Linked DNA regions of Homo sapiens: region 1 is linked to region 2. Evidence: fine-mapped expression QTL. Tissue or cell type: blood mononuclear cells. Region 2 holds a variant in brackets; the other region holds the start of a gene. All regions are shown on one strand. Distances are from middle to middle.

Evidence for each region. PIP is the estimated chance that this variant, and not a neighbour inherited with it, causes the effect.
Region 1: it holds the start of ABTB2, and the variant in region 2 is fine-mapped to the expression of ABTB2 in blood mononuclear cells (TOPMed, PIP above 0.99). The same link has a PIP of 0.9 or more in monocytes.

Annotation. Positions count from the first base shown.
Region 1 is chr11:34,354,364-34,362,363 of GRCh38, forward strand. ABTB2 (ankyrin repeat and BTB domain containing 2) reads right to left here and starts at 3,647. Exons shown (of 17, transcript NM_145804.3): 1 at 2,338-3,647. The coding sequence starts at 3,220. RefSeq lists an enhancer at 2,573-2,682 and a silencer at 3,633-3,832.
Region 2 is chr11:34,265,887-34,273,886 of GRCh38, forward strand. The region is part of intron 1 of ABTB2 (ankyrin repeat and BTB domain containing 2); the gene reads right to left. Among named protein-coding and RNA genes, the nearest start is that of ABTB2, 88 kb to the right of the region's middle. The variant C/A (reference allele first, on the strand shown) is at 3,186.

The sequences.
Region 1 (8,000 bases), 88 kb after region 2:
CTGTAATCCCAACATTTTGAGAGGCCGAGGCAGGAGGACTGCTGGAGCCCAGGAGTTTGAAACCAGCCTGGGCAACATAGCAAAACCCTGTCTCTATTTAAAAAAACAAAAGGTGGTGGTGGAGCTGGGGGGTGGGGGTGGGGGGGTAGGTGGTGCCAAAAGACCAACTTATAAAGGAAATCCCAAGGAATGCTGACCCTAGATAAGAAATAGTTCTTTGGTTGGAAGCCCTTTAGCAGAAGACATCTGTTTTCTAGCAGCTTCTGGCCACTTCGCATCTTCAGGGTGTCCTGGGCAGGGAGTTGGTCTTCCTTATTTCAATTTGCAGTTAGAAAAGCTGGGAGAAGCTTCTCAATGTGCTGGGCACCTGTTCTGCATGAATATATGTTTTTGTTTTGTTTTGCATTTACAGTTCCACCCTTATTCTTGTTTGGCTTATAGGGTTAGGTCTTCAGTCTTTTCTCCTAGGAGCCTGCCTTTACTTCTTTGAGTTCAGTTTGGGCCTCCTCTCAGCCAAAAGTACAGAACTCTTTCCCTCAATTATGACCACTGGAGATGGAAATCCCCTGGCCCTCCACTTCCTGCCCTGGAGCTGCTGTTCCCAGTGTTGATGCCACAAACCTGGAGGGTGAGGCACAACAAGCAGCTGTGACATCATCAACTGAGATTCAGGACTGACCTTAGCTCTGACCTAAGAGGAAGAAAATTAAGCAGCAGATGCTCTTCAATTCCCAGCATCTCCTTTGGCAGTGCCAGAATTTAAAAACAAAACCAATAATGTCAAAGTAAGCCATGCTTGGTACAGAGTGTCTTCAAAATGGGCCTAACATGTCAACTGTTCTCGAAAACTGGGCTAATCAAAAAACAAAGCATAAGATCTGAGAGCTATAGTCCAGTAAGAAAAACAAACAAACAAACAACAACAACAAACCAGAAAAACAAAGCTGTTTCTTCTCCACCAGCATCTAGAACCTTAAAGGGGCCTACCTGGATTCAAACTGGATTCAAATTCCAGTTTTGCCATTTAACATCTATGTAATGTTGGGCAGATTATTTAACTGCTGGGTACCTTGGTTTCCTTATCTGTAAAATGGGCATCATACTATGCAGTAAGTACCTACCTAATAGGCTTGCTAGGAGTACTTGAGTTAAATACAAAGTGCTGAGAATAATGACGACACATTAAGGGTTATTTTGCATTTCAGCTATTATGATTATGTTAAACCATGTTTTGACTTCTTTTATCCCTTTCCAGTCCCCACCTGACCTCTTCCACTGCCTGCTTATTTGCCACTGAAAGCTGCCCCCCAAATGGCCTTCCAATCAGATCGTAAGGCTGTTTAACCATAATACCATTCTGAACAGTTTATGGTGCTGACTTCTCAAACTGAAGTCTTGTAGGTAGTTTGCAGTTGAATGCAATGTCACACCCCCTAACATTGTCAGGGAAAAGGTCATGTGCTTTGTTTCCATCCTTTGCACCAAATCCATGCTATCTTCAGGGAAGTGCAACCACCCAATGGTTCCTTTCCCAGACTTGACCCCATGCGGTTACCTATCTCTTCCCCTTGATGGGCCACCACTCTTTTCAGGAAAGAACATTTAATACAATGCAAGGTTTTAACCAATGGCTCACTTGGTTGGTGACAGCTTGGAAAAATCAGGTCTCAGGAGACAATCTGTGGTTACTTTTCTGGGAAGGGGAGTCGGGGTCCCCAGGTTTCATCATTCCTGGGCACATATAGGTAAGAGCGAACCACTACCCCTCCATCCCCCAAGAGAGCGCCTGACAGCATCCTTCAGCCCAGCAAAGCACAAGGCGCAGCACCAGATCTTGGGCTTCCCACTTCCCTCCGCCCATCTTACTTATCCAAGGTTCAGGTCTTTAAGTTGGGACCCTTTGGTTGCTGCTATTGAGCTGGGGAAAACTAGGGGGCAGAATCAGTCAATCTAACCAGCTGTTGGGGAAAGACAGCAGCTAGAGACCTAGTCAATCACGGTAAAGAGCCACGGGGCAGTAAGTTTCATTTCAAGAGAGGTTCAGGAATGGCTTGGTCAAGAGATTCAATCTCACCCAATCAATGAACAGCCCGCAGATAGTAACAATGCCACGCAGAACAGGATGGAGATCATTCACAAGTTTACCCTCCAAAAGTCAGACACCCTTAGAACAATCTCTGGCAAGTGCCATGTAATGAACCCTATCCTCAGACCAAACGTTTTCTCCCAAAGAACTGGCACAGCCACCAGCTTTGTCTCAGGAAATTCACTCCCCCAGTAGCCCAGGGCGGGATTTCTTGCCTACCCAGTCTGCCAGTCCGAGGCCCGCGCGCTTACCATTGGCGTTCTTGCCGCAGATGAGATGCTCATAGGGCTGCAAGACGCCCCAGAGCTCGGCGTCGTTGTTGATGACCATCTCCAGGGCCTCAGCAGACACCTCCCCGCCTCCGGCCCCTCCGCCATCAGGGCTGTGGCTGGCCATCACCCTGGCCCGGATCTCCTCCACCAGGTTCTCCATGCAGGCGGTGAGGGAGATGGCTGCGTACTCGTGGATGCGCACGGAGATTCGGGTGTCCACCATCCAGCGGAAAAAGCGACCCACTGAGAAGGTGAGGCCGCAGCGCGCGGACTTGCCCCGGCGCAGCCCGTCGCCGGCGCTCATGCTGTACAGGGACAGCGCCTTGACGGCTGCCAGCGCGCAGCTCTCGGCCAGCGCCCAGCTGTGCACCAGGCGCACGGCGCTCTGCACCTCAAAGCGGGTGCACTTGGCGTGCAGCACGCTCAGGCGCTGCGCCTCGCGGGCCACGCGGATCAGTGCCCTGCGGAGCAGCCCGGCCAGGCGCCTCACCGCCTCGGCGGAGAACTGGGGCAGCCGCCGGCCGCCAGCGCCTTTGCGGAGCACCCGGGCCACGTCTCCTTCGGTCCAGGGGAACTCCTCCAGCTCGGGGAGCCGCGGACAGCGCGAGAAGAGGTCGGCCACTTCGGGGTCCTCGGGCAGCACCGTGTTCACCGTGTCCCAGCTGTTGTGGCGGCTGTTCATGGAGCCGGAGTAGCACCACCAGGCCGCCCCGCGGTGCTGCTGCGCCGAAGAGTTGAGCGCCTGCGAGTTGGACTTGGAGGACGAGAGGCTGAGCGAGCGGCACGAGTCCCCGGCCCCATACCCGGAGTCCAAGGTCAAGTCCTCCAGCGTCTTCAGAGTCGAGCTGTACGTCCCGGCCATGGGGAGCCTGCCGAGGGCGGCGTCGCCGAGCGAGGGGCACTCACAACTCCATGCCCTCTTTCCCAAGTGGGCAGAAACAAGCTCTAGGCCCTCCGGGCCACCCTCCTTCCTCTCTGCGTCGCGGGGCTCGGCGGCCGCATTGCCTGCCCGGAGGCCGCGGGAAGGTGGCCGAGATCCGTGGCCAGCAGGAGCCCCACGCTCCCGGCGTCCCGACTCGCAGCTGCCACTGGAAAGAACCCCGTCGCTACCCCCCGGCACTCCCCCTTGTCCACCTCTAATTCCCACAAGCAGAGAGTCAGTCCTCCACAGAGAAGGAATCCCGGGAGAACAGGGCGGCGGCGGCAGAAGGAGGAGGCGGCGGCGCAGGGCGCAGGGCGCAGCGCGAGTCCGGGACCAGCCGGCGAGAAAGCGCTCTGCAAACTTCTGCGCTGCGCCGGCCGGCAGCACAGCTGGGTACCCGGCTGCGTCCGACATGCAAATAACCCCGGGCGGCTTACCAATCACCGGCCGCGATGGGCGGGGCTGCACCAATGATCTCCGAGGGGGCGGTCACTATGCAGATTTCACTCTGCCTCGGGTTAAACCCCGCGGCGAAGGAGGCGGGGCTGGAGGCCGAGGGTCGGGCACGCGGCTGGGATGGGGGTGGGGATGGGGGGGGATGGGGGGGATGGGGGGGTGGGGGAAGGGCGAGCCAGCCAACTGGGAGGTGGAGGTGGAGACCGGAAAGCAGCGGTCGAAACGATAGCTCCGGAGCTCACGATTTAAAGAAAAATGCAAAGGAAAAGCTACAGGGCGCTGCCACCTTCCCGCCACCCAGGCTTTGGGCGTTCGCTGCTCGCTTTCGAGCCCTCCGCAGCCAGGCGTCCTGGGGTTGGGGCCAGGAGAATGGGGAGGGCCCCATCCAGGCGCTCCACCTCTCCTCCACCTTCCGCCAGGCCCCTCCCGCAATCCGAGATGAAACGCTGGCTGTGTTTGGAGGGAGGAGGGAGTCCCTGCCTCTCTTTCCAAGTCCGTCTGGTTCCTTTGCGCTGCCGTCTAGGCTCCAATAAGGACAGAATTTCTTAACCTGGTATCTGATCAATGGACGGGCCCCAGGAAGCCTGTGAGTGCCTCCGCCCATTTGTGGTTTCACCTGCAGTTTTCTGAGTGCCACTATGGGGAAGGGGCACCAACTTTTGTCAGATTCTCAAGAGGATCCGTGACTTCCCTGTTACCTCTGTGTGACGATACCACTTGCTGTCAGGTGGGTCCTTTTTGTCCGAGATAGACAGTGTTCTTACAGGAAGAATGAGAAGAAGGTGGCAGAGCAGTCCCTCGCCCTGGGCTGAGCTCGGAACACCTAGCTGGATGCAGGTGTTCGCCTCCTAACGCGTGCCGGTGGGCGAGCCGTATGCCCCCGCGGGACCCAGTTCCTCCGGGGTACAATGAGTGGCTGACCTCCAGGCAGCGCCAGTGCCAACCTGCCTCCGGGCGGGTGTCCCAAACGGTCCGCCAGAGCGCTGTTGGTTCAGCAGTCCCATGCCCGGTGCAGGCATGTCCCGCCGCTGCCCTGTGGCTACTCACACGCACGTGCGCAAACGGACCTGTGCCCCCTCCAGTGGAACCGCAGGCTCAAGGCGGGGATTGTGCATTCGCTCTCCCCAAGTCAGCCTCCCCCACTCCTGAATGGCTCCTTTGTGTTGCATTTTACACAGTTCTGACCTTGGGCCGTGAGTTGGATATGAACTAGAAATGTCTGGTTTGTCTCTTTCCTTCTTAAATTAATGGCCTTTACCCCCGGTGAAACTGCTTTTTATTTGGCAGTTTCGCTTAATTTTGCCTTTCCGCGGGTCTTTATTTATGCAACATCGCCGCCCGATGGTTAGAATTGGGAACAGAGTCAAAGATGGAAGTACTGTAATACCAAAGACGCAAGTCAGCAGAGATCAAACTAACAAAGGAGAATGCAGTCACACTTTACAGACGTGAGATTAGAAATTAAAGTAGGCAATGAGGTCCAACTTGTCAAAAATACAAAAGTAAATTTTATGCAATTTAAAACTTTATTGGGGAAATATAATATTAAAGGCAATGTCGCCCTCTAATGGATATATTCAAAGGAAATGAATTTCAGAAAGGTTTCCCTGTCCCCCCTTTTCTTCGTTGTGCGCACCCATCAAACCTAAAGAGAATTACTTAACTGGAAATTTACAACGGGGAACTTACTGAATGAAAGGTTATTGGAGGAATCATCTGGAGTGGGAAAAAGAGCCTATGGGATTTATATTAATATATTCAAATTACTTGATGACTTAAAGTGTAGATAATCAAACATGCCTCCAACTGAATCTGAGAATCCTGTGAATGTTGACCTGCAACATGAAGATATATTATGCAAAATTCAGCCATGGGAAATGCTTCTGAACAAACAACTGAGTTTCTTTAATAAATAAGTTTCAAGGAAAGAAAGAGATGGAGAGAAGACCTACACATTTAAAGAGACTTGAAAGACATAATAACCAATTACAAGGTGTGGAACTTATGTGTATTTTGAATTTGTTTTAAAAAGCCAGTAAACATTTGACATTATGAAACCATTAGGAACACTGCCTCGATGTTTGCTCTTAAAGAATAACTGTTTTTTTTTTTTTGATGTGGTAATGGTAGTGTGGTTATATTTATCAAATGTTCTTATCTTTTAGAGACACATGCTGAAATAAGTGTTTTGTAGCCCTCAAGAGTTGGCTTCCTCAAGGAAAAAAGGAAGACAAATCCTCATGGAAAAATCTGGTAAAGGGACTAGGAAGTTAGGAAAGACTGTAGATAGATCTCTTGTCTTTCAAATTTTCCTCAGTCTTCTAGTCAGCCTGAGGACTGGCAGTACCAAGTAAACCCAGAATGTGTCTGTGTTTGTGTTTTGTGTGATATGGGAAAAAGAATAGGAGGAAGATAGATAGAGATGAATATATATATATATATATATATATATATATATATATATATATATCCAGCCATCTTAGAATGAACCAATTCTTTGATTTCAGTTCAACTTTTGGGAGTTGGCCAGTGTGGTGAAATACAAAACTTTGGGTCAAGGAAAGAAAGGACATGGTTTCTTATATATACGTGCATGTGTTCAGTTAAGCCAATCTGCTGGTAATGTGTTTGATTTTAAGAATGCAAATTATATTAAGAGAAAATGTCATCCCAACTCGGGCCTTACCCAAACATTATTTTTGAAGAAACATTGTTTTTGAAGAAAAACAGCTGTCATTAAGCTGGACAAGGAGAAAAGAACATAACAGAACACTGGCAAACATTGGAACAATTCCAAGTGGAGTTGACAATTAAGAAGCAGATCTCGGATTACCCACGCAAAAATCATGTAACAGAGGTAGCTTGAAGTAAACTTTAGAAACTTTACCTGGTGTGAGGTCTTCTATGTGCTTACACAATCAAAAACAATCTGGAAATTAGGAGATAAAATACCCTGGAATTTACCTTGAAAGTGAGGGTGTTATAATCCCAACTATTTACAGACAGAACTGTCTCATGAGAAAGGTAGATTATGGCCTTGACTTTGGAGAGTGGCCAAATTTTAATTTAGTTTGTGGATCACCTTCAGTGCATTTGGCAGATGTAGATCTTTAACTCCCACAGGTGGTTTTAATCAACTCTCCTAGTCAGGAGGGAATGTCTTTAAGCAGAGAATTAACATGTTCAGGCTTACAGAAATAGATTTGAAATTAATTGGAGAAAACTAAGTTTATAGAGCAGAGAGCATTACCTGCTTGTTTGTTGGTTGTCTTTCTGTCCTACAAGAATATAAGCTCCATGAGGGAAGGGATCTTCTCCATTGAGTTCACTTTTGTATCCCATTGCCTAGGTCAGTATGAGCGTAAAGTAGGAGCTCAATAAATATTGAATAAGTGAATGAATGAAACTAACAGGATGAATGGGGCAATGTAATGAACAGCTAGGTTTCTTTTTAAACTCTCAAGGAACCAGCAGGTGCTTAAGACTGTGTGTTAAGGGAAAAGGATTACTGACATCTGAACTGAGATTTTCCTGATACCTGCCTCCTCCATAGACTTTAGGAGAGTCATGTGCTCCCCATCCATATTATTATTATTTTTGAGACAGAGTCCCACTCTGTCATTCAGGCTGAAGTGCAGTGGTGCTATCTCGGCTCACTGAAACCTCCACCTCCCAGGTTCAAGAGATTCTCCTGCCTCAGCCTACCAAGTAGTGGGGACTACAGGCATGTGCCACCACTTCTGGCTAATTTTTGTGTTTTTAGTAGAGACGGGTTCACCATACTGGCCAGGCTGGTCTCAAACTTCTGACCTTAAGTGATCTGCCCGCCTCAGCCTCCCAAAGTGTGGGAATTACAGGCATGAGCCACTATGCCCAGCCCCCACCCACATCAGAAAGGGGTTCCTAACACCTTGGGGAGGTGGGCTTAGGAAGTGGGGAGTGTCTTTGAATCACCTAAAATTGCCTACAACATTTTTAATATGAGTACATATTTGCATATTCTGGAGAGAGGGTCAATGCCTCTAGGCAGGACTGTCTGATAGAACTTTCTGAGATAAAGAAAAAGGTTCCATATCTGTGCTATCAAATACAGAAGCCACTAACCACTTGTGGCTGCAACTTGAAATCTAGCTATTGTGACTGAAGAACTGAGTCTTAAATTTTAATTAATTAATTATTTTTGAGATGGGGTCTCACTGTCACTCAGGCTGTAGTGCAGTGGTATGATCTTGGCTTACTGCAACCTCTGCCTCCTTAACTCAAG
Region 2 (8,000 bases):
TGAACCCTGGAGGCAGAGGTTGCAGTGAGCCAAGATCACGCCACTGCATTCCAGCCTGGGAGAAAAGAGCAAAACTCCATCTCAAAAAACAGAATAAAACACCATCAGAAACTCCAAGCAGATCTGCCTGAGTTGGGAGGAAAGAATGATTGAGGGGATCCAGTTCCATCTCTACCACGAATTCATTTTTGTTATTTATTTATCTACTTATTTAGAGACAGGGTCTCACTCTGTCACCCAGGCTGGAGTGCAGTGGTGCGATCATAGCTCATCGTAACCTCAAACTCCTGCACTCAAGCAATCCTTCCACCTCAGCCTCTCAAGTAGCTGGGACTCCAGGCACATGCCACCATGCCTAGCAAATTGTTACATTTTTTTCGGAAGTATGGGGTCTCACTATATTGCCCAGTCTGGCCTTGAACTCCTGGGCTCAAGCAATCTTCCTGCCTCAGCCTCCCGAAGTGCTGGGATTACAGGCATAAGCCACTGCACCTGGCCTCTACTTATATGACTCTAAAGAAGTCACATCCCTGGCCTGGGCCTTAGTTTCCTCATCCGTGAGCAGAGCTGGCCGATCAGACCAATCCCTGCCAGCCCTGACACTATGCACTCCTCCAGCAAGCAGGAAAACAGTAGTGTGTCTTGTTATTTCTGAGCAAAGGCCTTAATTGTTCTCTACAGCATGAACTCCTCTATCTAAAAACCACAACATCTCCTCTCCTCTCCCTCCCCTGCCACCCCCTTCCTCCGAGATCCACAAGACTGTTACAGAACATTCATTTATTTTTCTTCGGTGCTTGGGCTGAAAACTCTGATGACTAAGCCATTGAATTTTAATACGCTACTGTGCTCCTTGGAGGGTTTCTTCATTTCCCAGATCCCCCTCCCCCACCCCCTGTGCCCTCTGTAGACATGTGGTAGTCGTTAGGAACAGTTTGATGAAGTTTAGGTTTTCAGAGTAGAGGAGAGATGGGGGCCAGTGGGTGGGAGGGGAGGGAGAGGCGGGGGAGGTATGATAAATGGACACAACAGTCCAGAGGCCACTCAGAAAATAAACATAAAGCTCCTTTTGAGTGAGCCCACTAAAAACAAATTCCCCAAAAGCTTTTTCCTTTTTGTGGGGTGGTAGGGGAGGGAGGGGCGGGGCGGGGAGGAAGTGCTGGTGGAGGTAGGAGAGGAAAATTCTCTCAATGTAAATGGACTCTGTTCAGAGAAAGAAACAATTCTCTTTATTGGCAGCAGCAGACGTGCACGTCGGATGCTGCCAGCCATGTGTCACGACGGCCAAGTACTCTGTAGCTGAGGCCAGGCATTCAAATTCTGGGTGCTCGAGAGGCGGCAGCCCTCAGAAGAGCAAGCCAATGCTGGTGGAATTCCATGGAGAAACCTGGGTCACCACGGCAGACAGGGACAGACTCAACTGGCCAGGAACACCCCACTGGGGCTCAGTCTTGCTGACTTTCTGAAGGTCCCTGGCATTCTCTTTCCTGGACCCCAACCCTGGCCTCTTCCCCATCCTGACGGCATCACTCCCTGCCCCCATCCCACATTTCCATCCCCGTAGTTGAGAAACCCTAAACCTGGGCCCTGAATACATGTCTGCATGTTTGAAAATACTTGTAACACAGAGAAAAGGCAATATTTGAAACAAAAAAAATCCTAGACTTTGAATGGTAAGATTTCACTTGCAACCTGAGTTTCTTCTCCAGTGGGTGAGTTGAAGGTTTGAAAAGGAATCACCCTAGTGGGGGAAAGTGCATCATCTCCAGTTTTTGGTGTGGATTTCGTTTATGTTTGTTACACAAGGACTTGGCCAACCAGGTGCTATCTGAGAAGGAAGTATCAGTGTTCTTATGCTTTCCAGGAGGACATTGGAGACTTCCCTTATTAAATTGCCTTGCACACGGGGGTTTTTTGGGGTACCTCCCCAAGGATCTCTTAAGCACATTCTTCAGATACACTGTAAATGCTAAGAAAATGAGAGTTCACTCCTCTTCAATTTTTATTATAAATAATGCACAAATGTATGTAAAACATGCTCCCTATTTTAAGATTTCTTTTTTAGACAGGGTCTGGCTCTGTTGCCCAGGCTGGAGTGCAGTGGCTTGATCTCGGCTCACTACAACCTCTGCTTCCCGGGCTGAAGTGATTCTCCAGCCTCAGCCTCCTGAGTAGCTGGGACTATAGGCGCCAGCCACCATGCTCGGCTAACTTTTTAATTTTTTTTGGAGAAACAGGTTTTCTCCATGTTGCCCAGGCTGGTCTTGAACTCTTGGGCTCAAAGTGATCCACCTGTCTTGGGTTCTCTTGGATTATCAAAGTGTTGGGATTACAGGCTTGAGCCACTGTGTCTGGCCTGATGTTTTTCTTGTACATATTTAAGAAGTCAAGTAAATAAGTTCAGATGCTCACAGTAGAAAAATAACTACCTCAGAGCTCCTGGAATGAGGAACACGAAGCAGAAGATGCCATCAGTCTGAGAACCCACTCTCTCCTCTTAGTGGATGCTAGGGATGGGGACAGGACGGCTGACATTTCCCAGATCATCCACTGCAGCAGCGTGGAATCAGAGGGCCTGGGTTTGATTCCTGCTCTGCCACTAGCCAAAACCTCAGGCAGTCATTGGAACTTGCCGTGCCTTTACTGCCTTATTTGTAGAACAGGGATAATGACAGGTACTGGAAGGGTATTGGAATGCTGCACCGGCAGGGTGGGCCAGCCACTGCGTGAGTTTCCTGGGGCTTCTGTAACAAAGTACCATGAACTGGGAGGCTTTAAACAGCAGAACTTTATTCTGCTACACTCCTGGAGGCAAGAAGTCTGAAATCAAGGTGTCGGCAGGGCCCTGTTTCCTCTGGGACCCTGGTAAGTTTTCCGTTGCCTCCTCCCAGCTTCCTCGTCTGCTAGACACAGCCCTCCACATCCCATGCATCCTCCACGTGTGCCTCACCCTGTATTCAGATGCCCCTCTTACTCTAAGGACACCAGGCATGTTGGATGGGGGACCCACCCTACCCAGTGGGGCCTCATCTTAGCTAACTACATCCACACCTACTTATTTCCAAATAAAGTGACATTCCGAGGTCCTAGGGGTTAAGACTTCAACATATCTTCTGGGGGACATGATTCAGCGCTGATGCCCCCCACAGCCTTATCAGAACAGCAGTTGCCCTTTGTGTTTCTTG[C/A]CAGTTTGTGGCCAAGGAGAGGAAGCACCACTGACCAGGCCCCTGGGGTAGTGAACACGATGGAGAAATGCCCACTGTGACAGGAACAGCCCCTTCTCTTTTTGTGGTTGTTGCTAAAAGGGGGATTGGTTTTACAAACGAATGCTGTGGTTTTCATCGGGAAGTGCCTCTAAGCTGGAGCTCAGAGGATGGAAGCACTCGATAGGAATTAAACTGGGAGAAATTCCTGGCTCTGTTGTTTAGGGCAGATTTGCTGTGGTCACAGCAGATTTGCTTCTGTGAGATCTGAAGATATTCCTTGCTTGGGCCACCCATTTGCAGTAGCACCTACTTCTGGGTGGCAGAAGAAACAAAGGAAAAGAAGGGAGGGGATTCAGCCTCTGCCCCTCCATGACCTAGGCCACAGCTTGGTAAGCTTTCTCTAAGGGTCAGGTAGCAAATACTTTATGCTTTGTGGACCATGTGGTCTCTCTCACAACTCCCCACCTCGTCTGTTGTAGAGCAAGAGCAGCCACAGACAACTTGCAACCAAATGGTAAGGCTGTGTCCCAACGAGCCTTCATGTGTGGACAGAGAAATTTGAACTTCACACAAATGCCATGTGCCATGGAACATCATTTGTCTTTTGATTATCTTTCAACCATTTCAAAATATAAAAACCATTTGCAGTGGATGGGATTTGGCCCACTGGCCCTAGCTTGTCAACTCCTGATTTCCACACTCAGAGAGGTTGTGTGTGCTTCCACAGCCTACCATAGCTGTCACACCACCTAATTTTTCAATACAACTCCACAGTTCATAACATTTTCATACAATCACGTGACTCGATCCTCTCATCCACCCTGTTGGTAGGCACAGTGGACATTATCCCCATTTTACAGATAAGAAAATCAAACAAGTCAAATGTCCACTTAGCAAGTGGTACAGCCAGACTGAAACTTACGTCTTCTGGCTCCTTATCTGGTGACCCATCAGCCAGAAACACTCCAGACCAGCCCTTTTCTCATGGATGCTTCATGCACGGATGCACAACGATCCAAGTCAGCATGTAGTTCCCCCAATGGCTCTTTCAGAAATCCTGCCGCAGTCAGGGTGTTGATGCAGGGCTGAGAATTCTCCTCTAGAATCCTAGCTCCCCGACCAAGAGGACTAGATGTAACACTGGCCTCAGAAGGGTGGGTGGGCAGCTTCCTGCATGGTTTCAGGATCAAACATAGCCCACGTATCTTTGAAAACATCTAATCTGTTCACCACTGTAGACGGTTTTCCTTTTTTTTTTTTTTTTTGAGATGGAGTCTCATTCTGTTGCCCAGGCTGGAGTGCAGTGTCACGATCTCGGCTCGCTGCAACCTCCGCCTGCTGGGTTCAAACTATTCTCCTGCTTCAGCCTCCCGAGTAGCTGGGATTATAGGCACCTACCACCACACCTAGCCAATTTTTGTATTTTTAGTAAAGATGGGGTTTCACCATGTTGGCCAGGCTGTTCTGGAACTCCTGACCTCAGGTGATCCGCCCGCCTCAGCCTCCCAAAGTGCTGGGATTACAGGCGTGAGCCACCGTGCCCAGCCTGAGGGCTTTCCTTCCTCCACCTCAGAGGTTGACAACCAGATGCTCTTGGGGACCAGGCATGCAAGGTAAACAAGTGGAGTTTGGGGGGTGGGAACAGCATTTGCCTATCTAGAGGGGGCAGATGCTATTCAGCTCTAGCCAGCTGTTGCCAGATCAGGGACTCTCCCAAGTTTTAGATGATAGCATATCGTCAAGTTTTGGGTTTTCTTCGTTTTTTTAAAGAGTGCTAGGTTGAAAGATGTCCCTAGGCTACTGTGTGACGCCTTTTGCCCTGAGGGCTGCCTCTTGACTTTAGGCAGCTGATACCTTGTACTACATACCTAAAGTTGATTCTCTTTCCTGAAAACACTCATTTACTAGCAGCCAGAGGTGGGGATGGGTGGGTTTTTGATGGAGATGAGACAGGGAGTAACAAGCAGCCACATGACCCTGGATAAAGCTGTATAGGGACGGGTGATGGCGGGGAAGTGCAGGAAGCTCGGCTTTTAGAAGTAGATGATGAACACTGAATTATTCAAGACAGGTCCAGCCCAGGGCAGAAATAGAAAATAAGTCCTTGCCATGTCCTGATTCAGACTAAATTGAACTTGATGACACCCTTTCACAAGACACCTTTGATGGAAATGAAGATAATAATCACTGATGCCATCCAACATGGTGATTGATAATGCTCCCTCTTTCAAACCCTCACTGTGTCCTTGAGTCCCAGGAAGGTGCCTGGCTTGGGTCCAACCATCCAGACTCTGGCTCCAGGGGAGGGAGCTCTGAGGTAGGAGGGTACTTCCTCTGGGTTCATATGCTAAATACATACAACTAGGCCAGGAGTGGTGGCTCATGCCTGTAATCCCAGCACTTTGGAAGGCCAAGATGGGAGGATTGCTTGAGCTCAGGAGTTTGAGACTACCCTGGGCAACACAGGGAGACTCCACCTCTACAAAAAATAATTAGCTGGGTATGGTGGCACACACCTGTGGTCCCAGCTTCTTGGGAGGCTGAGGTAGGAGGATTGCTTGGGCCCAGAAGGTTGAGGCTGAATGAGCTGTGATTGTGCCACTGCACTCCAGCTTAGGCGACAGAGTGAGACCCTATCTCAAATACATACATACATACATACATACATACATACATACATACATACATACAACTTGCCTTTGGAACCATGGAAGTCACTGTTCCCCAACTATATGCTCCTTGATGGTGGAAACATGTTGTACTTGTCCTTATATCCCTAGCATCCTGTGAGCCAAACCAGCAGAGGCTTGGACTGGCTAATGCTAGACTGTGTATGGCACCTAGCAGGGCTCTGTGCTTGCCAAGCAAACACATGGAAATCAACATTTACAGAACATCCATATACCAGGTGCTTTTTCTGATTTGATGTTTATAATAAATCTAGGTGGGTACTACCCAGTGGTCATACTACTTCTTATTGATGGTATCCAACTTATTAACCTTGCCAACCCTCAGTTTCCTCATCTGTAACTAAAGATAATGATAGTACCCACATCTTATTGGGTTGCTGTTAGGAGTAAATAAAATAATAAATGTTAAATGTTTATCACAGTGCTTGGCATACAATAAGAATTCAATACACTGTTGATTGTGGTTTGCTTTTGTTCTGACCTCTTATTTGGAAATAATTATAGAGTCACAGGAAGCTGCAAAAAAAAAAAAAAAAAAAGAATACAGAAAGGTCCTGTGTATTCTTTGCTCACTTTCCCCAGATGGTTAAATCTCACACAATTAGAGTATAATAGCAAAACTAAAAAACCATACACATTGGCAGGCCAAGCGTGGTGGCTCACGCCTGTGATCCCAGCACTTTGGGAGGCCAAGGCAGGTGGATCACGAGGTCAGGAGATTGAGACCATCCTGGCTAACACAGTGAAACCCCGTCTCTACTAAAAATACAAAAAACTAGCCAGATGTGGTGGCGGGCACCTGTAGTCCCAGCTACTCGGGAGGCTGAGGCAGGAGAATGGCGTGAACCTGGGAGGCGGAGCTTGCAGTGAGCCAAGACCACACCACTGCACTCCAGCCTGGGCGACAGAGTAAGACTCCGTCTCAAAAAAAAAAAAAAAAAAAAAAAAACCAACCAACCATACACACTGGAATAATGTTGTGTATGTATAGTTTGATATCATTTTATCGTATATATGGTTTATTTCTATAACAACTTGATAACTATCATGAGACGCAGTTCAGAGCTGTGGTTAAGTGTACAGCCTCTAATTCCAGACTGTCTGAGTTCTAAAGTTGGCATGGCCACTACTAGCTGTGTGACCTTAAGCAAATTACATAACTGCTCTGTGCCCTAGTCCCCTAATCTGTAAAAGGGAAACAACAATAATAGCGTTTCTTAAAGGCTAGGAAGATTAAATAACTTAATATATATAAAGTACTTAAACCGTCCTGACATTTAGCAAACATTCCATGATTTTTAGCTTTTTTTAAATTAAAAAAATTTTTTTAAATTTTTTGTTATAATTATGTTTACTATTTTTACTATTCCTGGGTCCCAGAAAGGGAGGGGAGTGAGGAAAATCTTGGCCTGACTTCCGCCACAGGGCTCAGGCCTTCTTTTCCTTTGGTTAATGGTTGTGATGCTTTATGGAAGTGAGCCAAGGATACACCAGGGGTCTACTTTTGTTGCTTTGTTTTGGAATAAACCCATGTTACAATTTTGAGAGAAAACTCCAGGCTGTCCAGGCCTGCTCTTGCAAGGCCCGGGGTCTCTCTGTTGGGGAACCTCGACCGACTCCAGGTTTGCTGCTTCAGAGAGTAAGCTGGCAGGGGATGCAGAAGGGATACAGTGGGCTGGTTCTACTCACTTCTCCACTGGACGAAGCCAGCATTTGACCCCAGACAACAGCATCCCCAGGCATTCTGTCTTCTGCTTAAAGACTCCTCCTCCATCTGAACTGTGGCCCCTTGATGGGCTTCATGGCTGAGTAACACTGGCAGACCTCCGAGGAGAGGGATGGAACAGGGCCTGATCTGACAACAGCCTCCCAGAGAGAAGTGACGGTGGCTACACAGTCTGGCTTCAAGGTCAAAGTTCCTAAAACCTTGCATCCCTTTATGCACTAGTACTGGGGCAACGATCTAGAAAAGTGAAAGGAACTCAGACACCTTTGACTGCATCATGGGCATCACTCTAAAGCAGGCTGGAGGGAAGGAATAACAATAATTATAACAAGTGAGACCCTGCCTCAAAAATAATGATATTTGGCCGGGCGCGGTGGC